Regions from separate parts of the Homo sapiens genome. Here all the other regions are linked to region 2. The links come from fine-mapping of genetic effects on gene expression. A gene starts in region 2. Each other region holds a variant in brackets. All regions are shown on one strand. Distances are from middle to middle.

The links.
Region 1: its variant is fine-mapped to the expression of SH3BP2 in thyroid (GTEx, PIP 0.99).
Region 3: its variant is fine-mapped to the expression of SH3BP2 in whole blood (TOPMed, PIP above 0.99).
Region 4: its variant is fine-mapped to the expression of SH3BP2 in whole blood (TOPMed, PIP 0.98).
Region 5: its variant is fine-mapped to the expression of SH3BP2 in fibroblasts (GTEx, PIP above 0.99). The same link has a PIP of 0.9 or more in whole blood.
Region 6: its variant is fine-mapped to the expression of SH3BP2 in whole blood (INTERVAL, PIP 0.93).

Annotation. Positions count from the first base shown.
Region 1 is chr4:2,766,649-2,770,649 of GRCh38, reverse strand. The region is part of intron 2 of LOC102723763 (a long non-coding RNA gene); the gene reads right to left. Among named protein-coding and RNA genes, the nearest start is that of TNIP2, 12 kb to the right of the region's middle. The variant C/T (reference allele first, on the strand shown) is at 2,175.
Region 2 is chr4:2,791,012-2,795,012 of GRCh38, reverse strand. SH3BP2 (SH3 domain binding protein 2) reads right to left here and starts at 1,928. Exons shown (of 13, transcript NM_001122681.2): 1 at 1,875-1,928. RefSeq lists a silencer at 1,861-2,210.
Region 3 is chr4:2,828,680-2,832,680 of GRCh38, reverse strand. SH3BP2 (SH3 domain binding protein 2) reads right to left here. Exons shown (of 13, transcript NM_001122681.2): 8 at 2,534-3,188; 9 at 1,002-1,110; 10 at 703-758; 11 at 269-350. Among named protein-coding and RNA genes, the nearest start is that of ADD1, 13 kb to the left of the region's middle. The variant C/T (reference allele first, on the strand shown) is at 2,490.
Region 4 is chr4:2,697,725-2,701,725 of GRCh38, reverse strand. FAM193A (family with sequence similarity 193 member A) reads right to left here. Exons shown (of 21, transcript NM_001366318.2): 19 at 1,182-2,046. Among named protein-coding and RNA genes, the nearest start is that of TNIP2, 57 kb to the left of the region's middle. The variant A/C (reference allele first, on the strand shown) is at 2,354.
Region 5 is chr4:2,811,171-2,815,171 of GRCh38, reverse strand. All of the region lies in intron 1 of SH3BP2 (SH3 domain binding protein 2), which reads right to left. Among named protein-coding and RNA genes, the nearest start is that of SH3BP2, 20 kb to the right of the region's middle. RefSeq lists a silencer at 978-1,027 and enhancers at 1,738-1,837, 2,788-3,027, 2,212-3,296. The variant T/G (reference allele first, on the strand shown) is at 2,083.
Region 6 is chr4:2,823,151-2,827,151 of GRCh38, reverse strand. It overlaps SH3BP2 (SH3 domain binding protein 2), which reads right to left. Exons shown (of 13, transcript NM_001122681.2): 4 at 2,422-2,539; 5 at 1,956-2,026. Among named protein-coding and RNA genes, the nearest start is that of ADD1, 19 kb to the left of the region's middle. RefSeq lists enhancers at 1-316, 317-1,203. The variant C/A (reference allele first, on the strand shown) is at 2,064.

The DNA.
Region 1 (4,001 bases), 24 kb after region 2:
AGTTTCACTTTTGTCTCCCAGGCTGGAGTACAACGGGGCGATCTCAGCTCACCGCAACCTCCACCTCCCAGGTTCAAGCGATTCTCCTGCCTCAGCGTCCCAGGTAGCTGGGATTATAGGCGCCCACCACCATGCCTGGCTAATTTTTTGTATTTTTAGTAGAGACAGAGTTTCGCCATGTTAGCCAGGCTGGTCTCGAACTCCTGGCCTCAAGTGATCTGCCCGCCTAGGCCTCCCAAAGTTCTGGGATTACAAGCGTGAGCCACCACTGCTGGCCAGGACCTGTTGTTTCTCTCTGGATATTTACAGGATCTTCTCTTTGTCTCCCATGTTCTGAAACTCCCTTTGATGTGCCTTAAGTACACATCTGCTTTCATTCTTGGTTCTAAGCACTCAACAGGTCCTTTCAATCCAGAAACTTGAGTTTAATTTCTTTTTTTTTTTTCTTTTTTCTGAGATAGAGTCTCCCTCTGTTGCCCAGGCTGAAGTGCACTGAGATGATCTCGGCTCACTGCAACCTCTGCCTCCCAGGTTCAAGCAATTCTCCCACCTCGACCTCCTGAGTAGCTGGGATTACCACCATGTCTGGCTAATTTTTGTATTTTTAGTAGAGACGGGGTTTCACCACGTTGGCCAGGCTGGTCTCAAACTCCTGACCTCAGGTGATCCGCCCGCCTCGGCCTCCCAAAGTACTGGGATTACAGGCGTGAGCCACTGTGCCTGGCTGAGTTTAATTTCTGTGAAATGTTTTTGGATTGTTTCTTTGATGATTTTCTCCCCTCCTTGTTCTCCCTATCTAGACATATTATGTAGATGTTAAGTGTCCCAGACTGGTCCTTCAATTCCTTTTTTTCTCTCATTTTCAACTTTTTTCTTTTTCAACTTTTTTTTTTTTTTTTTTTTTTTTGAGACAGGATCTTGCTATGTTGCACAGGCTGGTCTCGAACTTCTGGACTCAAGTGATCCTCCCACCCTGGTCTCCTGAGTAGCTTGGACGACAGGCATGCACCACTGCAAGGGCTTTATTTTCAACTTTTTGCTCTAATTTCTATAAAATTTCCTCAATCTTATCTTCCAACTCTTCTACTGAGTTTTCAATTTCCATGATCCTATTTTTAATTTCCAAGTGCTCTTTATATTCTCCAAATGTTCTTTCTTTATGGCACCTAGTTCTTTTTTCATAAATACAAAATTTTATCTTTCCTTCTTGAATATATTAATGACAGTTTTTTCCAAGCTGTCTTCTCGCAGAACAGTCTCTGTTTCCTTCCAGTTGTCCTTTTTCTGTTTGTTTTGTCTCTCTCTTCCACATCAGAGGAATCTCTCAGATGTCTGGTCATCCCGGCTGGCTTCTCAGGCTGGAGAGTAGGGACTGGTAAGCAGTGACCTGGCAGGAAACCGCCCGTGTGATCTGCCGATCAGGTTCCCTGGACACCCTGTGACACCCTGCATAGAGGGGAGAGGTCTGGCTGCCGGCGTTCTGAGCACTGCGGGTGGGTGGATGGGACGGCGCTGGGGTCTTGGCATCATGTAAATGTGCATCACATCCTCCCACCTTCAGCATGAAACCTCAGCCCCGCTGAGCCTGATATTCCCCCGCATCCAGAGACCCTCCGTCTGCTCCACGCCAGGGAAGAAGCCACTGGTGTCTGGCCTGGCGGGGGAAGCCCAGAAGCCCAGCTGTGGGTGGAGGCTGTGGGGGGAGGGGATCTGGTTCCCTGCCCGTTTCTAGCCATCCTGCTTATGTTCAGCTCCCCTTCACCCACACTCCTACATGGAGCCACACATTCCTGAGCCTTTGGTGGGGAATATGAGGGCCTGGGTCTGGGGGCATGGGGAGCCCTGCCCTCTATCCTGGGGACCACCAAGGCTGCAGTTGGTCCTTCCTTCTGAGCCCCAGTTTCTCAGCTGTTCAGTGAGGACTACATTTTTCCCTGGGCTCTTCCCACCTGAAGGGACTTTTCAACTTGGGGAGGAGCCTGCCGGGAGCTGCCAGGTATGTAACTCGCCCCCAAGAGCATCTCTCCTGGGGTTCGTCTTCCTCGGCAGTTTCTGTCTTCAAAAACCTCTTTGTTATAAGTAACTCTTTACCATCAAACATCTTAATTTGCAGACTGCGCTGTAGCCATCACCCAACACCGGAGTTGAGTGGTAACACCTTGGCTATCAGCAGA[C/T]GCCTCAGATGGCACCTGAACCCTCACTGGCAGCTGAGATGAAGGCTCCGTGGGGATGAAATACAGACACCCCGCTCGGTGTGTGGAGGGGCTGGGGTTGAACAGGAAGGAGGCCAGAAGACGGCTTCTGGGAGGAGGAAAATGGCTCTGACAAGGAATGGGAGCCACCAAAGACCCAAGAGCCACCCTCACCTCCTAGCCCAGGGGCTGTGCAGCTCAGGGCTCTACTGGGCATCACCCTCATAGGTGGCATCACCTCTACCGTACGGGCACATCACCCTCATCCAGATGAGGTGGCCTGGGAGCAGCAGAGAGCATGGCACACGCCAGCTATCATGGGTGTTTGCTACAAATGTCTTTAATACACGACAAAAGTAAGCTGTGGCTAATTTTCATTGAACAGACGCAAACATCAAGGCTACAGAGAGGAAAGATCTGTGAAGGCCACCAGAGCCTGCAGGCCACACGCCAGGCCCTCCCACTCCGGGGCTGTGCAGGCTTCTTGCTGTGCTCGTCTGTCCTCAGCTGCCGTGTGCCACACCCACCCATCACTGGAGTTTGTCAGAGACGCCAGGCCGACAAGTGCCCCTGGGTTGTCACTCCTCCCACGTCCTTGGGATGCTGGCTGGGACAGCCCTGCTCTGCTGACCCCTCACTCCTAAGGGGCTCGCGGAAGAGGCCGAGGGTCTGAGAGCTGGCTCCTTGGCCCAAGGCAGGGCTGTCCAAATCCTAAGGTCCCTCTGCTCCCATAGGAAGGCTTCCAGAAGCCTCTCTCTGGGGCCAGGGCATCTGGGAAGATGTCCCGGCCCTAACTATGATTGGGAAATGGGGCAAGATGGAGAAAAATGGCGTTTGTGAAAGGGCTCCCGGGGATATAGTCTGTATCACAGGCAGACAGGGGCCTGCAGGACTGGGCTAGGGGGCTGGCTGGGGGAAGGCAGCAGGTGGGGCAGCCACACCTCCACTGGGCTGCTCCCCCAGAGCTGGTCTGAAGACAGGCAAGGGGTATGGCTGTGACCAACCCTCTCCTGGCACCCCACCCCCAGCAACCCCTGATATTGGGGTCACAGCTCAGCCTCTTCCACTTACTCACGCATGCATACCACATATATTTACTGAGCAGCTAAACATTCATTCATGCATGCATCATACATTCATTCATTTATTCCACAGTCACCTGAGGGCCCTCCCCTGTGCAGCACTGTGCCAGACCCTGGGGGTGCTGAAACCAATCAGGTCACTGCTTACGATGTCCCAAGCTCTCTCAAATGCCCCATCCCCAGCCTCAGCCTTCCTGCCCCAGATGAGGGCAGATCCATCCTCCCCACTGCTCAGGCCAAGGTCTTCAGGTCCTCTTTGATTTTCCCTAACCCTACCTCACCCCAGTCTGTATGAGTTTCCTGTGGTTGCAGGAAAAAATTATTTCAAACTCAGTGGCTTAAAACAACACAGAGTTATTCTCTGATACTTCCGGAGGTCAGAAGTCTGAGACAGGGGTCTCCCTGAGCTAAAGTCAAGGTGTTGGCAGGGCCACATTCTTTCTGGGGCTCTAGGGGAGAATCCATTCTTGGCTGTTTCCACCTCCTAGAGGCCACCGGCATTCCCTGGCTCGTGGCCCCTTCCTCCAGGCTCAAAGTCAGCAACACTGGGTCAAATCCTTCTCACACTGCGTTACTCTGGCCTTCTCTTCCGCCTCCCTCTTCCACGTTGAAGGACCCTGTGATGACATTGGGATCACCTGCTGACCCAGGGAAAGCTCCCTATTTTAAGGGTAACTGATTAGCAACTTCAATTCATCTGCTGCCTTTATTCCCCTTGCCATGGAAG
Region 2 (4,001 bases):
GCCTCCTGGCCATGATCACACAGCTGGAAACTGGTGGCATCTGAGTTCACACCCAAGATCCTGGCTGAGTTTGCGCCCTTCCTCCCTGCCCCTCAGGAACCAAGGCTGGCCATCTCGTCTCTCTGGGCCCCTGGACTTCCCGTCTGTGGGCCTGCTTGTGTGCGTGCATCCCTGGGGGGTGGGGAGCTCCAGCTGACTCAGCACCCTGCTTCCTCTGTCCATGTGGGCAGAAAGGGCCAAGGCAGGCCCAGAGCCTGTCCTCCCTCTGTCTGCCTCTTCAGGCCAGCCTCCTTGGTGGGCTCCCCCATGATCCTGGAGGCCTGGGGACTCCCTGAAAGGCCAGGTCCCCTGTCAGCACCCCTCTCACCAGATGGCCCTGGCTGGCAGTTCCTAGACACGGCTGCCTATCTGTCTTCCTTCTGCCTGCCCCCTCCAGGGTGTGCCTAACGCAGGGCACAGAGCCAGGCAAAGGGAGCCTGGCGGGTGGCAGGGAGAGGGGATAGACAGAATCCTCACTCCCTTGCAGCCCTCGTCCCAGGCCTCCTGTCCTGCCAGGAGTGGAGTGCCTGGAGTGGGGCCCTGAGGTTGGGCTCCAAGAGGGCCCTTCGACGGTGTCTACGTAGAGGAGACAGTGGACAGAGTGGGAAGAACCAGGAGGGGGTGGAGCCCAGCCCCTCCTCTGGTCCCACAGGGCCTGAGCCAGTGAGGGCAGGAGCTTGTCCAGGCTCATGGAGTTGGTGCAGGGCTGACCTGAACCCAGAGGCTTGCTTCGGCAAGGAGGAGGCTGTGGGCCCTGCCTTCAGGCGGTTGTGGAAACAATTCTACACATTGCATCACCGGCCCATGTCACCTGCAAGGCCACACACATGTCATCCAGGCAGGCTGTCCACCCCAGCAGCCCACACGGAGTACCCGCCCCTGGCCACAGCCAATTCGAAGGACTTAAGTGTGGCCACTAGACCAGGAGGCACAGCTGTCCCCAGTGTCAACAGATGAGCAAACTGAGGCACAGAGAGGGGATAGGAGGTGCTCACGGAAAGGAGCACCAGCAGAAGGCTCCCCACAGCAGGGCTCAGGCCCTCAATACCCCCAGGGAGCCGAGGCCCAGAGCAGCGGGAAAGTGCTGGGCTGCAGGGAGGCCAGCGTACAGGTGGAAGGGGCTGTCCCCGCCCCCTAACTCCTCCAGTCCCTCTGCCACCCCTGAGATTCCCTGTTGCCCATGAGAGTCTCAGACGCCCGGCTATCAGTCACTCACACTTCAGTGTGAATCAGCGCCAGTGGGCGGCTTTTCTTGCCCTCCGTGAAGCGCGGCCGCTGCAGAGGGAAGTTTGGATTCCGGGAAGGGCGGAGAGCGAGTGCCCGCCGCAGCCTTTGAGTCTTGTGGGGAGGGTCGCGTAAAGGGGCCCCGCCGCGGGGCCAGAGGGGCGCGAGGGGTGCGAAACAGACGCGTCGCACCGCCTCCCACCCCTGAGCCCCCGGCAAGGGACACCCGGCCCCCGCCCCGAAGCCGCGCTCCCTCGGGCACTGCCCGCCGTGCCCAGGCCCCGTGCGTCCTTTGGCAAGGACACGGAGGCCCCGGGGCCCGGGGGAGGCTGCTGCGCACCCGAGACCCCCGACACCCGCCCATACCTGCCGGGACCCTGAGACTCCCCCGAGACCTGCCAAGACCTGCCGGGACCCCTGAGACTCCCCGGAGACTCCCCCGAGACCCCCGAGACCCGCCGAGACCTGTCGGGACCCCGAGACTCCCCCGAGACCCCCGAGACCCGCCGAGAGCCCCCAGACCGCCAAGGCCCGCCGAGCCCCTTCCAGACGCGGAGACCGCCCCCCCGCGAGACCCCCGAGACCCGCCGAGACCCGCCGCCGAGGCTTACCCGCCGAGCGCTCTCCTGGCCCGCGGGCCCTGGGTCGAGGCGGCGGCTTGACTCGGCCGCCAGGCGCTCCCGCCCGCGGGACCCGCCGCCGCCGCAGCTCCGTCCCGCCCGCGCCCGCCCAGTCCGCCCTCCTCCTGGCCCCGCCCCGGCCCCGCCCCTCCCCGGCGGGTCCCGCAATCCTGGAGGTCCGAGCTGGGCGTGGGGCGGGGCCGGTACCTCAGGGTGGGCGGGGAACTGCACGTGGCCTCCGCGGCCCCGGGACGAGGCCCCTGGGGGGCGAAGACTGGCGTTGTCGCGGGCCTAGACGCCGGGTCCACAGTAGGTGCTTAGTTCTCGCCCGTGAGTGAGGTAGCGTGTCTGTCCCTCCTGCGTGTCCCTCCCAGTGACACCCCAGTGCCCAGCGACCCAGGTGGAAAGGGCGCTGTCCACCCCCCCAGCCCCGTGGTCCTGATCCTGGGCGGCCCCACCCCTGCCCCGTGAGTGCGACTTAGGCCCTGGCCAAGACAGGAGCAGGGGAGGTGGGGGAGGGCTTGCTGGGCACCAGGAAACCTTGTCTTTGTTTCCAAATGTCCTCCAGGGTACTTTTCAGGCACTTCCCAGGGGGACCTCGCCTCTTGGACCAGGTCTGGACTCCGGTGGCCCAGAGGTCGTCTTGGGGCTGGGAGGCACAGGAGACCGGGTGCTTTACACTTGGCCTCCTCTGAGGCTCCCTTTCCTCCACCATCACCCTCTCCCTAAGAGTAGGCCCAGATGCCTTGGTGTAAGGGCAGGGGCGAGAAGAGGAGGGGCTTCCTGGGAGGAAATGGCTTCCCTGGGGAGCTCTCAGGGCCAGGTAGGTGGAGGGAGCCGTGGAGAAAGTGAAGAGGCTGGGGAGACCAAGCTGGGCCTGCAGAGCTTGAGGGCGAGCGGACCCCCCACCAGTGCGGGAGTCAACTGCTTGGGGCGTGGGGGGACTCCTCCCCATGAGGAGTGGGGACTGGACCCCAGGTCCCAGAGCCCAGGAAGCTGTGAGTAGAGGAAGGACAGGATCTTGCTGGGAACCCAAGGGAGCTGGGGGTGGGTGGTGGTGACCTGGCCCTGTCCAGGCAGGCGGCCAAGGTCTGACCCTCTGTACTGAGCACAAGAGGCCAGAGTCCAATGACAGGGGCTGAATTGGCTGCTCCAAATCAGGCAGGGGCAGGGGTGTCCAGGGCTGGCCCTGCAGCAGGTGAAGGACTGGGTTTGGGTCCTACAGGTTGAAATACCTGAGGGCCTCCAGGAGACACAGCCAAACCAAGCGGGTTCTCAGGGTTGCAGCTGGACCGAGTGTGGGCCAAGTCACCGTCCACCTGTCCCAGAGCTGCCCAATAATGGGTCCCAAGCCTCAGAAAGGGGATCCCTGGCTGCAATAGCCCTCCTCCCTGCTGGAGAGACACACTTGGGATCAGAGAGGTTAACTGGGGAGGGGAGTAAGTGGGAGGAGTCAGAAAACTAGGTGGCCAGGCCCTGAGCCCAGGCATAGAGGAAGAGCCAGTGCCTACCAGGAAGTGACCAGGACCAAGGCAGGGCCTCTGGAAGGGAAGGGACAAAGCAGGGGATGGCAGAGGCAGGGGAGGATATGGGAGAGTCTTCAGACAACAGGGCCCCTTTTCCCCATCTGTGAAATGGAGGGGGTCCTCTACTGGGGAGGCGGCAGAAGTGGATGGGGCATGACAGCAGGCAGATACTCACTCTACCTGGCCCAGGGCCACCCCTCACACCGGCGCTGGGGCTGTGACTCTACCCACCTACAGCCTAGCTCTCGGGGCTGAACTTAGACCCCAGTGAGGGAGTAGATGGGTGCTGGCTGGCTGGGGTGCTCACTCTCTGGGGTGCCTGCTCACATCCCCACCTGTAAGTGTCCTGGGCCTGGCTCCCCAGGTCTCAACTCTGCTCATCCCAGCATTGGGTAGCCTGCAACTCTTCTGCCCACCCCCCACTCTGGGCTATTTCACATTTTCCTAGCAGGGAGGAAGAGATAGGAACTACAGCCATTGTGGAAGTGGCTGGGCTCAGCCCCATCCGACGTTCAGTGCTGCCACTGTTAGCACCGCATGGGGCTGCGTCACTCCTGTAAGAGGCCACATGCGGAGGGAGCTCCAGGCTGGG
Region 3 (4,001 bases), 38 kb before region 2:
CATGTGGCCTCCGCCACCCCAGAGCATGAGCCCTACCCCACCCGAGTCCTGGCCCCCACTGGGAGGTGGCCATCATGGCCCCCAATTTGCAGATGGAGATCTATTAGGGAATAGATTGGGGGGTGCTGCTGGGAAGAGAATTCAGCTGAGACACCAAGTAAGAGTCCACAAGGGGAGTGGTTTAGGAACTGTGGAGTCCTGGGCCCACCCACAGCCTGGGTGTGTGGAGAGCCAGAGGGGCCCTGGGGCATCTTCCCCTGGCGCCTACCTTCCCCGACTTGGTAGAGGAGTTCCGGATGCAGTAGAGTCCATCCTGGGGCTCTCCCCGGGGGCTTGTAGCCTTGAACAACCTAAAATAAGACAGTCATATTAGCGGGTGAGTCCTCCTCGGGCAGCTTTCACACGGACCTTCCCGCCCCGCTCCCAAGCCTGGCTTTCTGTCCTCTCGCTGTTGTAGGTCTCAGGAGCTGAGCACGTCGGGCTGCCGTGAGGCTGACAGAAGCAGCCCAGCAGAGCCCTGGCCAGCCAGGGTGCCAGCTGGGCATGGGACAGAGCAGGGAGGTCCACTCCTCTGGTTTCTGCTGCACGCAGGGCCATGAACTTGTGCCAGCAACTCCCCAACACGGAAGCTAGTGAGAGGGACACAGAAGCAGGAAGCCGGGCATGGCGGAGGACCCAGCACACACAGGGCTTTGTGCTGACCTTTCCACTTCGCAGGACTCCGTGGTGTTGACGAAGACCGAGTTGGGCAGTGGCACCTGCAAGAGGCTGACGGTGTCAGTGCCAACGTCGGAGTGATCCACCCGCACCACCACTCCCCGGACGGTGGCCACCCGGTGCCGGGATCCGGGGCTTTACATGGTGCTGTGTCCCCCTAGGCTCCCGGGTTCTCGGGGGGTCCTTGCTCAGGACGGTCTGTGAGGGGCCGCCCTGGCCTATGGCTTTCCCACCACCTGTCCACCTACTGGCCACTGGGACCCAGGCTTGCCGCTCAGCCTTGCCTTCTCATAGTCCTCGTCCGAGTCGTCCCCGCCAGTGTCAGCCTGTGAGGGTTGCCGGGGCTTTTCAAAGGAGAAGCTCCTGAAACTCTGCCCATCGGGGGGTGATCGCCTGGAGGGGCAGGGAGAGGAAGGCAGGACCATTTCACTGTCAGACACGGGGCGGCCACCCTCTGCTCCCCTCCCCACTCCACCCTCTGTGTGAGGACGGCAAGCTGCCTGCTATGGCCCCTGTGACCCTAAAAAGCTCAGGACAACAGAGATCCGGGTAGGGCTCGTGCCGACTGCCCTGGGACAGCAGGAATCGCCCGACACCGGAGTCAGGGGTCAGGGCTGCCATGGATGCTGGCAAGGGAGTCCAGGGTTCCCAAGCTCAGTGTCATCACACCGTCAACAAGTGCTCTGGATGCTCGTGGGGAGGGGAGGTCCGGTCATGGCCAAATCACAGCCCACTCAGAGCCACAGGGGAGTGGACGTGAACTGGATGAACAATGCAGTGTGACCCCAAAGGACGCCCATGGCGTCCCTGCACGCCTCCCTGTGTGGCTAGCCGGTCCTGCTCAGCAAAGCCTCAAAGGCTCTAGGGAGGATTAACGGGCCACGCCAGCATGGGAGGCCAGCCTGTGGGTGAGGCTGAGCCCTGGAACCGCTATCCCCACAGTCATGGAAAAACGTGACTTCCGAACATCTGCATCTCTGCAGCCCTTGGTGAACTAGAACCACGAGTGTGACAAGGGCTGCTCAGAGGCACTTCCACACAGGCAGCAGGCATCTCAGAGGTGTTCGCAGAGCCCTGGGAGAAGGGCACCGTGGGCAAGGGCATTCGGGGGTGCGCGTGCCGGCCAGCACACCCATGCGAAACCTGCCCCTCCAGTTCCTGGACCCTTTGCCTGCCAGGCAAGGCAGGAAGCCCACCTGGGGTCCCAGATGCCTTTGACCACAGCCATTGGCGTAACTCTGTGGGAGTGGGGGACAAACTGGTCTCCTGGCACTTCCCAGAAATAAAGCAGAAAGCATTTCAGCAGGACGCGGTGGCTCACGCCCGTAATCTCTACACTTTGAGAGGCCGAGGCAGGCGGATCACTTGAGACCAGGAGTTCAAGACCAACCTGGCCAACATAGTGAAACCCCTGTCTCTACTAAAAATACAAAAATTAGCCGGGCGTGTTGGCAGGTGCCTGTAGTCCCAGCTACTTGGGAGGCTGAGGCAGGAGAATCACCTGAACCCCGGAGGTGGAGGTTGCAGTGAGCTGAGATCGCACCACTGCACTCCAGCTTGGTTGCCAGCGTGAGACCCTGTCTCAAAAAGAAAAAAAAACAAAGCATTTCCAGCAAGCTTCAGGGCTGAGTCATGGACATGCTCCACGTTCCACCAAGGCGGACTGGAGGCAACCGGGAACCTTCCTACCCTTGCACCTGGTACCCCGTCGTGGGCTAAGAGTGCCAGGGGAGCGAGGTGGGCAGAGTGCCCGTCAGAGGCCAGGCCAGGGT[C/T]CCTGTAGCTGGAGGCAGGGCTTGCAGCCGCCACACAAACTCACTGGAGGTGCGGGAGCTGCGGCTTCTCTGGCCTGGGCAGGACTGCGGGCCGCGCCATGGCCTCAGGCACTGGCAGCTTCAGCGCAGGAGGCCGGGGAGCCACGGGGGGCACAAAGAGTCCGGGCATGGCTGCCTCCCTTGGGGGGTCCTCTTCAGCTATCTTCAGGAACTTGGGCTTGTTGGCTGGCACAGGTGGGGGCTCAGATGTGGGTGGTCCTCGGGGGGACAGGTGGAAGGACTTGAGTTTGTCACAGTTTCTGGAGGTGGCAGTGGCCATGATGGCAGCACTGGAAGTGGAGCAGGCCCCGTGGCCAGGGGTCCAGGGCTCCGGGCTGGGGCTGGCACTCTCCCGGAAGCAAGGGGGTTTCCGGAGGCCGGGTGCGGTGGGCATGGTGCTCAGAGGGGGATCGCTCATCCTTCGGGGGGTAGCAGGTACCCTGGGGCAAGGCTCAGCCCGCCTCGGGCACAGTGGGTCCCTCTTGGAGTCCTCAGCAGCCAGGCCAACATCTGGGAGGCCGTGCTTAGGGGGCGGGGGTGGCAGTAGGGGACCGGGGCCCTTGGAGGTAAAGGAGTGGGCCCGGGGCATGTCAGAGAAGGCTGGCTTCCTGGGCGTGGGCACTGGGGGTGGTGGGTAAGCCGGTGGGTGCATCAGGGCATCTGCAGAGCAAAGAGACCCGGGTTGGACCCTGACAGAGACTGGGCCAACACTATCCTCTGCTGGCAGTGGTCAGCCAGGCCAACCAGGAGTGCAACCCATGGTAGGCCCACCCCACAGCCTGCCCACCCAGCAGCCCAGCACCCAGCACTCCCATCCTGCCTTCCCCAGGGTCCCAGACCACCCACCACCCCCAGCCTTCCCCATTCATCCTCCCTATGGCAGCCTGTGGACGCTTCCTGAAGCCTAGAGGACACCTGAGGAGCCCATCAGGTTCCCAGAGGTGGAAGGAAGAGAAAGGAAGAGAAGTCAAGAAGGATCTCAGGGCTCGGCTGGAGCGAGAGGGAGGACGGAATTCCCAAGGACAGGGGAGGGGAGCAGCTGGGAGGAAGGTGAAGGCCCGTGTTTGCTCAGAACATATCCAGAAAGCTGGGAGATGCCAGGGGATGCGGGGTCAGGGAATGTGTGCAGAGTTCAAAAATCCAGGCTGGACATGACTCGGAGCGGGCAGCCTGCAGATGACCCAGGCTGTCACCCAGGGAATTCGGGAGAGGAGTGAGGTCTGAGTCCCGGGTATCCCTCATGGGGCCAGCACAGGAGCTGAGGAGAAAGAGGACCCCGGGAGCACGGGGCGCCTGGAGGACGGGCTGGCAAGGAACAGGGCAGGCGCCAGGCTGGTGTGGCTCAGGACTGAGCGCTGGAACTGGGAATGGGGAGGCCACAGGCGTCCTGGACGAGAAATGTCTCGGGGAGAGGATGAAGGGGGTACAGAGGGAGGGTGAGTGGAGCAGTAGCATGCAGGAGCACTGGTGGCT
Region 4 (4,001 bases), 93 kb after region 2:
GCTACAACTAGTCGGTGAATGTTCAATAAAAACAGGATACTCATTTCCCCATAAGACACTTACTAATTAGCAAAGGAGAAATATTAACTTGACCGTAGTGAAAATGGGCAGACCAGCTCAACCCAGGATCAGAGTTCCCATCCCCAGTGATGGGACAGACACCGTCACCCACTTCCTGGTGGGATATACCAACAGGGACTGGCCACATCAGTGGTGTTGCCGCCAAAACATGGTATCTGAACCTGACTGGGAAGACATGGGGCATGCACCCTGACCAAGGGATCCTCTAAAAAATAAATGCGCTGCACTCTTCAAAAAAGTAAAGGTCATGAAAAACAGAGAAACCGATCCAAAGGAAAGGAAATTAAAGAGATACGACATGGGATCCTGGATTGGATCCCATGTCAGGAGAAACAACAAGAGCTTTTTTTTTTTTTTTTTGCTATAAAGGATGTTAAAAGGACAATTGGAGAAACATGAGTAAGGTCTACAATTAGAGAATAGCATTGGATCAGTGTCAACTTCTTCATTTTGATCACTGTACTGTGGTTTTATAAGTGTCTTTATCTTGAGGAAATATACATGGAAGTATTTTAGGTTAAAGGGGTATCATGTATGAAGTGACTCTCCTTCTGTCCAGAAAAATAAGAGAGAGAGGGAGAGAGAGAATAACGAAGCAAACATGGGAAATACTGATGTTGGGGAACTAAAGTTGGGGAACTGGAGGGGGTAGAAATCCTCTCTCTCTCTATATGTATTTTTTGAGATGGAGTCTCTCTGTCACCCACGCTGGAGTGCAACGGCATGATCTTGGCTCACTGCAATCTCTGCCTCCTGGGTTCAAGCGATTCTCCTGCCTCAGCCTCCCCGAGTAGCTAGGATTACAGGTGCACCACCAAGCCCAGCTAATTTTTTTTTGTTATTTTTAGTAGAGACAGGGTTTCAGCATGTTGGCCAAGCTGGTCTCGAACTCTTAACCTCTGGTGATCTGCCCACCCTGGCCTCACAAAGTGCTGGGATTACAGGTGTGAGCCACCATGCCTGGCCCCTCTACGCTCTTTTCTACAGGAGGGAGGCCACATGGCGAGAGCATGCCAAACCCAGTGTTTTCCTATACTAGCACATCACACATGGAAAACCAGGCATCGCTCAGAAATACCTTCCCGCTATTCTGTATTTACCAATTGAATTGTTGACTCTGTCTCCTTTCTTCTTCTTATTTTTCTTGTTCTTGCCCTTTGGCTGAGGGGACTCTGCCAGCACCAGCTTGCTGTTCTGCTGATGCTCACCGGGAGAGGTGGGCTCCATAGGGGTTGGGTTTGACTTTTCGTCCTTGATGTGGTTCAGCTGCTTTTTGTTATTGTTATTACTGTTGACTTTTCTCTCCTCTCTTTTCTGCTCTGTGATGGACATGAGGTCGACCACCTTAGCCTTTGACTCAGTCTGGGCCCGGGGCTTGGACTGCCCCTCTGTGGCCTTGGGGGGCTCTGTGGGCCTCCTCGCTGGCTCGCTGCTGGCCTTGCTGGTCTGCCTCAGCTTCTGCTTGCCATTTCCTTCTTTATGGTGCTGCATGATGTCGAAGAAAAAAGAGAGTGGCTCATGCTGCTTCCCATTCACCTCCTTGGGGAGGAGAAATTTGGAGTCTCTGGTGTCGACGGGGTCTGCAGCATCCCCATCAGCCCCTAGCCCTGGCCTGGGCTCTGAGTGGTTCATATGCCTGGATGGGGAGTGAGAAGAGGTTTCTGGTTCTTCAGTTTGCTCTAGTGAGCCATTGTGGATGTTTCCAGAGTTAGGAACAGACTCTGTTGCTGCCTGGAAATTTCTAGTGAGCATGTCCAACTTGGGGCAGTCTTTACTTGGCCTCTCCTTCTTCTTCTTTTTTACAGCTCTTAGCTTCTGAAGCTCCTGAAGCCGCTGAAATTCCTCCTTGAAACGATCCTCCTCTTCTTCCTCATCCTCCTCCTCCTCCCGCCGCCTCTGCTCCTCCTGGAGGTGCAGGTGCTCCCGGGCCCTGGCCTCTGCTTCTAGGCGAGCTTTCTCCTCCAGCTGCCAATGCAAAAAGAAGGCAATTTAAGACTACAGTGAGTGCTAAAAATTAAGTCATACAGAAAAACTAAGATAATTTCAAAAACGAATCACATATGGAACATAAACTCTGAAGAGGCTGTAATAAATCAAAACTTAACACACACCCACCTCCAATTCTCTTACTCTGCAGGATTGTTAAACTTCATCTATTTACTAAAGTATATGCTTACTTATTTGTGTGTGTGTGTGTGGGGGGGGGGGTGGTAGTTAACAAAAAATTCCCGATAGCCTTTGACCTGGTACTAAACACAGTAACCAAGGACAA[A/C]GCAGCTGCAAAGCACACATCCAGGGAGTCAGCTACCCCCTCACAGGTGCGGCAGGGCATCATGCCGCCTGGCCGAGTGGATGATGTAACCAATACCACAGACTGCCCGGGCAGTACTGAGGCTGTACACGTGCCGCCAGAACTCTGAGCAAACCCACCTTTCCAGGCGAAGGCTAATGCATTCACTTGAACAGGGAATGTAAGAAATGTGTACCAGGCTGGTGCAGTGGCTCACACCTGTGATCCTAGGAGTTCAAGAGCAGCCTGGGCAACATGGCAAAACCCCGTCTCTACAAAAAGTATCAAAATTAGCTGGATGTGAGGGCGCACGACTGTGGTCCCAGCTATTTGGGAAGCTGAGGTTTGAGAATCGCTTGAAGCCAGGAGGTTGAGGCTGCAATGAGCTGTGATGGCACCACAAAAAGCAATGTGTAGTAAAGAACTAGAAATTCCTTCTTCCCACCCTAGCAGATAAACAGAAGTGCCATATATTTTCACTAGTGTGACAGATGTGACAGAGCAAATGACTCACTGTCCAACTTGATGGAAAATTAATTTTCATCCCAAGTAAAGACAGCATTTGAGTAGTGATGCACACAAACTCCAGGGGCACAAATGGAAACTGTTCTTTGTGTTCAGAAAGCAGATGAGAGTCATCAGTGTTAGGAGCACGGCTCCACCCACCACCAACCTTTAGAAATGCTGGGGCTTATGAGAAACTCTGCCAAAAGCATTTCTCCTAGAGAAATAGAAAAGTACTCCCCAAGTGTAAATTATTTTTCACAATATTTTAAACAGGCAAATTGACTTGTCTTTTGAAAAACTTAAAAATTATGATAAAAATTTAACAATGGTATGTTATTAAAAATTTCATTTGACAATTCAAGTAAAAATTATTTAACATCCTTCTCCATGTGTATGTCAGGAGCAGCACCCAGCAGCCACCTCGTGGATGGGTCCTGCAGTCCAGTGTCTAGAGTGAGCTGTGGGCCTGCACGGGAGCAGAGGAGAGACCAACTCCATCAGGACACTCGCTGGCACACACTGGCCAGTTGGCATCCTCTCAGAGCTGATCTAAATCCAGCACACGTGCCTTGTCAATATATGGACAAATAACAAGCATGTAAAGGCAGGTGCCCTGGTCTCCAGCAGAACGGCTGCCCCAGCACAGGCCCCCGGTTTGGACCTGCTACGGGACAGAGTCCATAGGTCAACTATTGCTGTCCCTTCAACAACCAGCCAGCCAGTGAGCCTCAACACACATCTGTGAGCTGCTCTGTAAAATGGGTGCAGCGTAGAAAGCACCAGGAGGTGGTCCCTCGAGGTGGGACTGGGTGCTGGGCAGGGCCTATGACATCAGCCTCTAAGGTTCAGCTGGGCCTCAAGTCTGGATTCAGACCACCTGCAAGGTCAGAGGGCAAGAGCCTGGGGTGGAGAGTACCCTGAAAACTCAGGAAGGCGTCCCAGAGGCCTCCAGTGAATCCCAATGGGACGTCTCAGGGCCTTGGACCATCGTGGGTACCCCGATGCTGGACGCTCCTGAATGGAGGACACACTGTGTTCTCTGCACTCCAGCAGTCTCTAGTCTTCTGGGGCACGGGACAAGGCTTCTCCCCCAAAGCCTCCCAATCAGGCCCAATAGTCAGTC
Region 5 (4,001 bases), 20 kb before region 2:
AAAGGTCGGCTGAGGCTGAGGGTGATGATGGGCCATGGAGGCCGTGGTGACCATGCTGCTCTTGGGGAAGTTCAGCCCAGCTCACAGAATCTGGCCCCACTTGTGCTCGGGAAAACCAGGGGGCATCCCCAAGGAGCACCCACACTCCTAGCTGGCCAGGCCTCCCTGGCTGTGCTTCTCAGTGCCCAGCCCCTCTTCCAGGGACCTGATGGTTAAATTCCATTCATTCATTCCAGGGGACTCCACAGGCCTACCTGCCAGCTCTCTGGGTGCTTCAGTCCCTTCCTCTGTAGAGGCAGACACCCTGGGGGGACCTGTCACCATGCTGCTGCGGTGTCGGCTGAGTTAACATGGGCAGGAGCTGTGAGGGAGAGTGCTGAAGATCTGGGTTCACATCCTTCCTGGGGCCCCTCCTTCCCCTGAGCCCCCACCTCCTCCAGTGTAAAGTGGGTATGGAGGAGTCCACTCTCAGAGTCCCCTGACACCTCTGCAGCTGCTCTCTGGGGCAGGGCTCTGGAGACACATGGGCCAGCGTTGGGCGGCCAAAGCTGGTGGTGGCTGCTGGGCTCCATGAGCCCTTCCAGAAAGTATGTGATCTTTGCATGTGTGCACACGTGGAGATTTGCATTTGAGCCTGTACACTTGTGCGTGTGTGCGTGTGTGTGTGTGTGTGCACATGCACATTAGGGAAGACGGGGCACCTGGGATACACTCTCCAGGTCTCTGTTTCTGTGCTCATCTCCCTACCTTCTCTCAAAGTTGCAATTGGTTCAGGTGACCCCAAGGCCTGAGGCTGCTGCGGTGGGGGGCAGAGCAGTCAGGTGAAAAGTGCTCAGTCCCACAGAGACACCCCATCGGGTTCCATTTAATGCAGGCTCTGTGGCTCCCACCACCCTGGGGCCCCATGAGCCCTGTGGCGTGTGTGGTCATGGCCTGTGCAGGCCCTCATGTGCGCTGTGTCTCTGCACACCCAGTTAATGTCACAGGTGGTGCACTCACACAGGACGTGCACATGAGCTGCACAGCTCGCATGCACACAGGCGTGAGCCCCTGCATAGGAGCAGGGTGGGGGCTCTGGGAGGCTGGGCTCCTGCAGGATCATCCTGGCTGTGGTAAGGGAGCCAGCACCTCATGTGACCACAGGGTCAAGGACTTACTGTTAGTGGTGATCAGGTTGGCCCCATTTGTGGGAGCCACAGGGCAAGTTGGGGCTGGGGATCCAGCCCAAAGGGAGAAGATACCAGGTCACCCTGTGCACTTTATTCACACGCTCATATATGCGCATCCTGTCACACTCATGCATGTACAGTTAACACTCACACCATCCACACTAACACATATATACACACTCATTCTCCCGCATGCCCACTCGCTCTCATGTTCTCATACACACTCATGCACTCATGTCTACTCATACGTGCACACTCACACCCATATGTATACTGATATACACATTCATCACACTCACTCATGCATATGCAAGCACTCATTCACACACACACAGCCTCCAACGACCAACAAGACCTGTCAAGTGCGGTCTTCTGTGTCTCCGTGTCCTGAAGCCTGAGCACAGAATCATCACCACCACTCCCAGCCCTGCCAGGGCCCAGTGCCAAGCTGTACCTCACAGCTCACTAAATCGACCAGGGTCCACCTGAGCTCAATACTTTACTTCTATTTTACAGACTTGGGTATAGAGGCTGGGAGAGGATCAGGCCTTGTGCCGAGCGCACTGGGCACTCCCTGTGGGCCAAGCTCTGTGCTTCTCAGTGATCGCCCCATCATCCAACACCTTGAGCTTCAAACCAGAGTCCTCCCCAAGTCACTGACGAAGAAACTTGGCCAAAGTCACACAGCCAGTAAATGGTGGCTCACGCACCACCCCCGGCCCAGCACAGCCACGGCCCAGCTTGGCGCACAGTGGGTGGCCGGTGGTGGGCGTGGGATGTGCAGATGGGGCGGCTTCCACCTTGGAGCCCTGGCTGCCCTGCCTCCCCACAGCTGTCTGCTCTTCCTTTTCGGTTTCCCTTGTTTCCTTCCTGTTCCCAGAATCTTTCTCTGTTAACATAATCAAAACCAAAA[T/G]TCTCCCGTAAAGGCCCAGTAACCAGCTATGCCAGAGAAGCACTGCTGGCCAGGGGCAGGGTGGCCCAGCCTGGGCTCTGCGAGCACAGCCCCAGCCCGGCAGTCCCTGAGGTCCCTGCGGGTCCTCCACATTGCAGGTTTCAGAGCATGGCACTCCCCAGGTGGGCAGCAGGGACCTTGTACAGCTCTCTCCGTTACCCCCCCACAACAGAAACACACACTCACATACACAACGTGTGTACTTAGGACCCAAACACCAAGGCCACCCTGCAGGCTGTATCATGAGAAGTTCCCGGACCTGGGCCCCACCCCAGCAGGCTGGCCCCCGCCTCCCTGTCGGCCGCATGTGATGGGGGGGTGGGGGGGGTTCTAAGTATCACATTCCCTCTCTGGCCTCCCCCTGTGCCTGCCAGCTCGGGGGCCTCTCAAGGCAGACAGAGGCCACTCTCCTCAGAGCCTGTTGCCTTTTGCAGGCTCAGGGCCACCTCCTGTGGGCTCCCACGGCCAGCCCCGAGGAAGGCTGTGGCTCCCACGTGGGGCCCCCTTACTGGTTCTTCAGGTGCTAGACCAGTGCCGCCTCCCGAGCCCCAGTCCTGGGGCCGCCCCACTGACCTGATGGTGCTGACCCAACACATGGCCCTCCGTCCTCGTGACCTGCTCGGGGCCGGTGTCCTGGGGCCCAGGGAGGCCATGCGGCTCAGGGGCCACCAGCCCAGGCAGCCTACATCTCCCAGACATGTGAGGCCTGACGCGCCTGGCTGCCCCACAGCTGTGCCCACAGCTCACTCCTGCTGCTTCTGAGGCCTGTGGCCGCCGGTGCTTCCTCCCCACCCGGGACTTCCTGTTCCCTGCTCCCTGGGCAGCACCAAGTAGCCGGCACTTCCTGCCTTCTACCCTGTGAGGTCCTGAAAGCTGCCTGGGGCCCAGGGCTGCCCCTCATCCACCATCCGGGTTTTAACTCCTACCTTCCACTGCTCCTGCCCTCCCATCCTGTGGTCAGAGGCCAGGGCTCTCTGGCTCCAGCGCAAGGTCAGCTGCATCCCTGGGAGGAAGCTCCCTGCTGCCTCCCCGCAGGGCCACCTCTGAATACTCGGCTTCTCCCTAGCAAACCATGAAACAACCTGCACCCTGGGTGTCAGGCCCAGCACAGAGCAGCATTTACAACACACACAGGGATGGTGTCACCTTACCAGCATGCTCTTCCTGCCAGGGCAGCTGCTGCCACCCTGCTCTGCCATCTGAGGCCACACAGAGGGCTGTTATGTCTTGCACCCGGTTCTATGAATTTCAAGGTGGCCATCTCTGTGCCCTTTGACACCAAGGGACTGAGGGACTAGGCCTGGGCTCTGGCATTCCTCGATTCCTACTCTATCCCCAGCCTTTTCACGTCCCCGCAACCACACCAGCTCTGCTAACATCTGGTTTGCTAGAAAGTACATTATGGCTGAGTGGCAAAGCACGCTCCCGTACTCACCGGCCCCTGCCCCAAGGCCCGCTCAGAATTCGGCCCCTCCCAGGGCTGCTCTGCCCCCACCAAGCCCAGTGCCCTGCCCAGGCCCAGAGCCCGGAAGCAGGGAATGGGGATTCTAGCCACTGGCTGCTGAGCGCCCTCCCTCTCCTCCCAGAACTTGCCCAGGGAGGACAGGACCCCTGGGCAGAGGCAGCTGGAGAAAGGGGCTTTCTGGGGCCTGGGGCCACCCTCACAGCAGGATTTGAGGGTGACAGAGGCCACAGAGCACAGGCCACAAAGCTGCAGGGGTCTCATCTTGCCCGCCAGGCTTCCTAGGGCACGGCCCCCCGAAATCAGCCTCCCAACAAACCCTGGACCCCAGCCCCGTAACCGGCTGTGCAGGTCCCAAGCTGTCCCATAGCCTAGGTGTCGGGTCACTCAAAAAAGGCAGCTCCCAGGCTAAGGAGCT
Region 6 (4,001 bases), 32 kb before region 2:
CAGGCACACGCGGATACATGGACAGATACACAGATGCACACACGGATACACTGACAAACACATGCACACATGGTTAAGCTGACAGACACACACATGCACACACGGATACGCTGACAGACACACACATGCACACATGGATACGCTGACAGACACACACATGCACACATACTCTGACAAACACACAAATGCACACGTGCACACACAAGCACACGCAGGAACACAGGCACACAGGCATGGATATATATACACAAAGACACAGGGACACGCGCAGACATGTAGACACACAGACACAAGGACTCTGTCACACAGACATGGAAGTATACAGATAAACACAGATACAGGACAAGCACACATGTTCACACACAGACGAGCGACACACGGACACGCACACACAAACACAAGCAACACGCGGACATGCACACACACAGAGCAACATGCGGACATGCACACACACACAGAGCAACATGAGGACATGCACACACACAGAGCAACACGTGGACATGCACACACACACAGAGCAACACGCAGACATGCACACACAAACACAGAGCAACACACAGACATGCACACACACACAGAGCAACATGCAGACATGCACACACACACACACAGAGCAACACGCGGACATGCACACACACACAGAGCAACACGCAGACATGCACACACAAACAGCAACACGCGGACATGCACACACACAGAGCAACACGCGGACATGCACACACAAACACAGAGCAACACGTGGACATGCACACACACAGAGCAACACGCGGACATGCACACACAAACACAGAGCAACACGCAGACATGCACACACAAACACAGAGCAACACGTGGACATTGCACACACACACACAGAGCAACACGCGGACATGCACACACACAGAGCAACACGCGGACATGCACACACACGGAGCAACACGCGGACATGCACACACAGTTACAAGGACAGACAGAAGAACTGGAGGCTGTGGTGCCTCCACTAGGTGCCCCTTCTGGCCCACAAGGATGGCCGCCCTGACTGTGCCCACGTCTCCACCTGCTCCTGCCTCAAGAGGGCTTGGGCGACTCTGGGCTGGGCCCGAGGCTGAACAGCTTGGACCAGGGGACGGGAGCCCGGAGTCAGGCAGGGACCTGCAGGGCAGCCTTGGCTGTGCCCAGCCCTCCCTGGGCCTCCTGTCCCCACCTGTGAAAGGACAGGAAGGTTTGTTCCCTCCACATCGTCTCGGGCCAGGAAGTCCCAATCCAGAGAGTATCTGCTGCACGTCGGGCCAGCTCACGGGGGAGGCTGCCAAGGCTCAGACTGCCCAGTGGCGCCCCGCCAGGAGAATCATTCTGGTCTCACTCTGAGTGAGCCAGGGTGGGCGTAGGGGGCTGGGAACCCAAAGTGCCCAGCTGCTGCCATGCCAGGCCTCCCTGGTGGCAGGCGTATAAACACACATGATCCCCTAACAGGAACTACCCATGGCGGCAACACAGAAACAGATGTGACAGATGGGGCTGGAGGTAGACAGGAGCAGAGAGATGCATGCACACCTGTGCATGCTCTGTGTGTGTGTGCATGTCTGTGTGTTGCTCTGTGTTTGTGTGTGCATGTCTGCGTGTTGCTGTGTGTGTGTGCATGTCCACGTGTTGCTGTGTGTGTGTGCATGTCCACGTGTTGCTCTGTGTGTGTGCGCATGTCCACGTGTTGCTCTGTGTGTGTGCATGTCCGCGTGTTGCTTGTGTTTGTGTGTGCGTGTCCGCGTGTCGCTCGTCTGTGTGTGAACATCTGTGCTTGTCCTGTATCTGTGTTTATCTGTAGACAGGAGCAGAGAGACGCAGCCCAGCTGGCACCTCCAGGAAACCTTTAAGGACGGAATTCTATGCCAAGCCCGGGGCTGGGAGGCGGACACCCGGGTCAGGCCCAGGCGCCCCAGGGACCCTCACTGCCCGGTATGCCCTGGGCCCGGGCTCACCTGGTGTCCAAGGGCAGGTCTTTCTTTTCGTGGAAGTGGCCAATCTCCCTGCGCAGCAAGGCCATCCAGCTCTGCAGGTCAGCGGGGCTGTGGTGGGCACGGTGCCAC[C/A]AGGGTGGGCCCCACCGCACCCCTCCACCTTCACTGCCCTGCCTGCTCTGCTGTGACTCCCAAGGTCAGAGGAGGCGACCCGGCTGGATACAACATGGCTGTGTGGCTCCCCTCAGCCCACAGGGGCACCTCCCAGGACAGCATGTTCCTTGTGTGGGCGCTGGCACCAGGCTCTGGGCATGGGGATGGAGCTGGGGCAGCACCCACCCAGCTGCCTGTGTCCCAGCCACACCTTCTCTTTGCCCGGGGCTGAGAGGCCAGCGCCCCAGGACCAGCGAGCCCCCAAGGCAGGTCCAGCCTGGTGCCTGCAGGCCCACACCCCCAGTCACCTTGCACTCGTCCTCGGACCCCCAGTCACCTTGCGCTCCTCCTCGGAGGAGGCCGAGAAGAACCACGTGCGGTGCTTCTTGCTGATATGGATGATCTTGAAGGGGAAAACGTTGTTGGACGTGGTCTCCTCAGCCGCCCGCATCACCCTGGGGGCACAGCGCCAGGGGTCACGGCCTGGTTCACAGCTATAGGGATGGCCTTCCCACAGCACCCCCCTGTGAACACGTCTCGGCACCAGCACCACGCCCCAACGGAAGAGGGCAGATCGGGTGGGCCCTGGCTGCTGATGCTCCCAGTAGTGAGCTTCATGCCCAGGCAGGCGTAAGGGGGCATGGAGGGGCATGGAAGAGGGGTGCTGGGTGGGCTTCGTGGGAGCAGCAGTGCACAGGAGACAAGGACAAACCTGCCTCGATGCCCGCCAATGCCACTTTACATGGACGCCACCCTCCCACCTCTGGCCCCATTTGCCCAGGCCTGCTTGGCCTCCCTGGGGTACCCCACAGGGCTCCGTGCCCCTGAGGCCCAGCAGCAGCCCTGAGTGCATTTCAGGGAATGACTCGTGCCTGCTCTGCGGCCCACTCACACAGCCAGGATGTGGGGTTTGCGCTGAGTTTATCACGTGGGGAGCCCTGCCAGCCAGGCACCGGGGCAGGTGCACTTATACGGCCCATAAGAGCCTGGCCAAAACTCCTCAGGCCCAGCATTCCCTGATGGGCTAGACAATTCCCTGGGGCATGATTGCATCTGCCACTGGGCCCAGGGTTCATGGCATGGCTGGCACATGCTGGAGGCCGGAAGGCGCTGTGTCTGTCTGCAGAAAGGGAACGACCTTCCCCAGGGGACCCCGGAGCTCTGTGCCAGCATGGGGGCCTGGCACCAGGCTGGGTGCTCTGGCAAGGCTGCCCTACCAGGCCTGTGGCCAGGGTGCAGGCCGGGGCCTAGAGTCACTCCAAAGGTCCCAGTTCCACTACTGATACCATGTGACCCTTGGTTCCTCATAGGCAGGAGGGGCTGGGCCCTTAAGGGGTGGTAAGAGGCATAGATAAATGCTGTGGGGTGCAGGGCTCCGATGGGATAGCAACCAGAACCAGAGCTGGGTGCCAGCATTAACCCTTTGTGTGGGCCCCAGGCCATGGGCTGTGCCAGTGCACTCCCCCACCCACATGCCACCTGGCCACCGCCCACCTGCCTGTTAGTGCAGAAGGCCCTCCAGGGCAGCTCATGGCCCATCACTGGATAGAGCCCAGCCCAGGACATGCGTGAAGCTGGAAACTGATCCCGGCCTGGGAGGACCCTGGAGCAGGGAATCCTAGGGCCCAGCCTCTGTTTGGGACAGGGCCTGGGCTGGCTGGGGTCTGGGCTGCCTGGAAAGAGGTCATGGTGGGTGAAGGGGCAAGGTGGGGAGGGAGGAGAGATGCAGAAGTCACTGGGTGGTGGCCGAGTGGAGACTCTGGAGAGCAGGCTGTCCAGGCCTCTGGGACTTGTGCACAAAGCCACAGGAAGACCCTGGCACCCCCAAGGTCCTGCGCCTGAGGGCAGGACACGCGGAGAGGGCGAGGCACTGTGGAGGCTGGGCGGGGAGGACAGGGGATGGGCACGAAGGCTGCT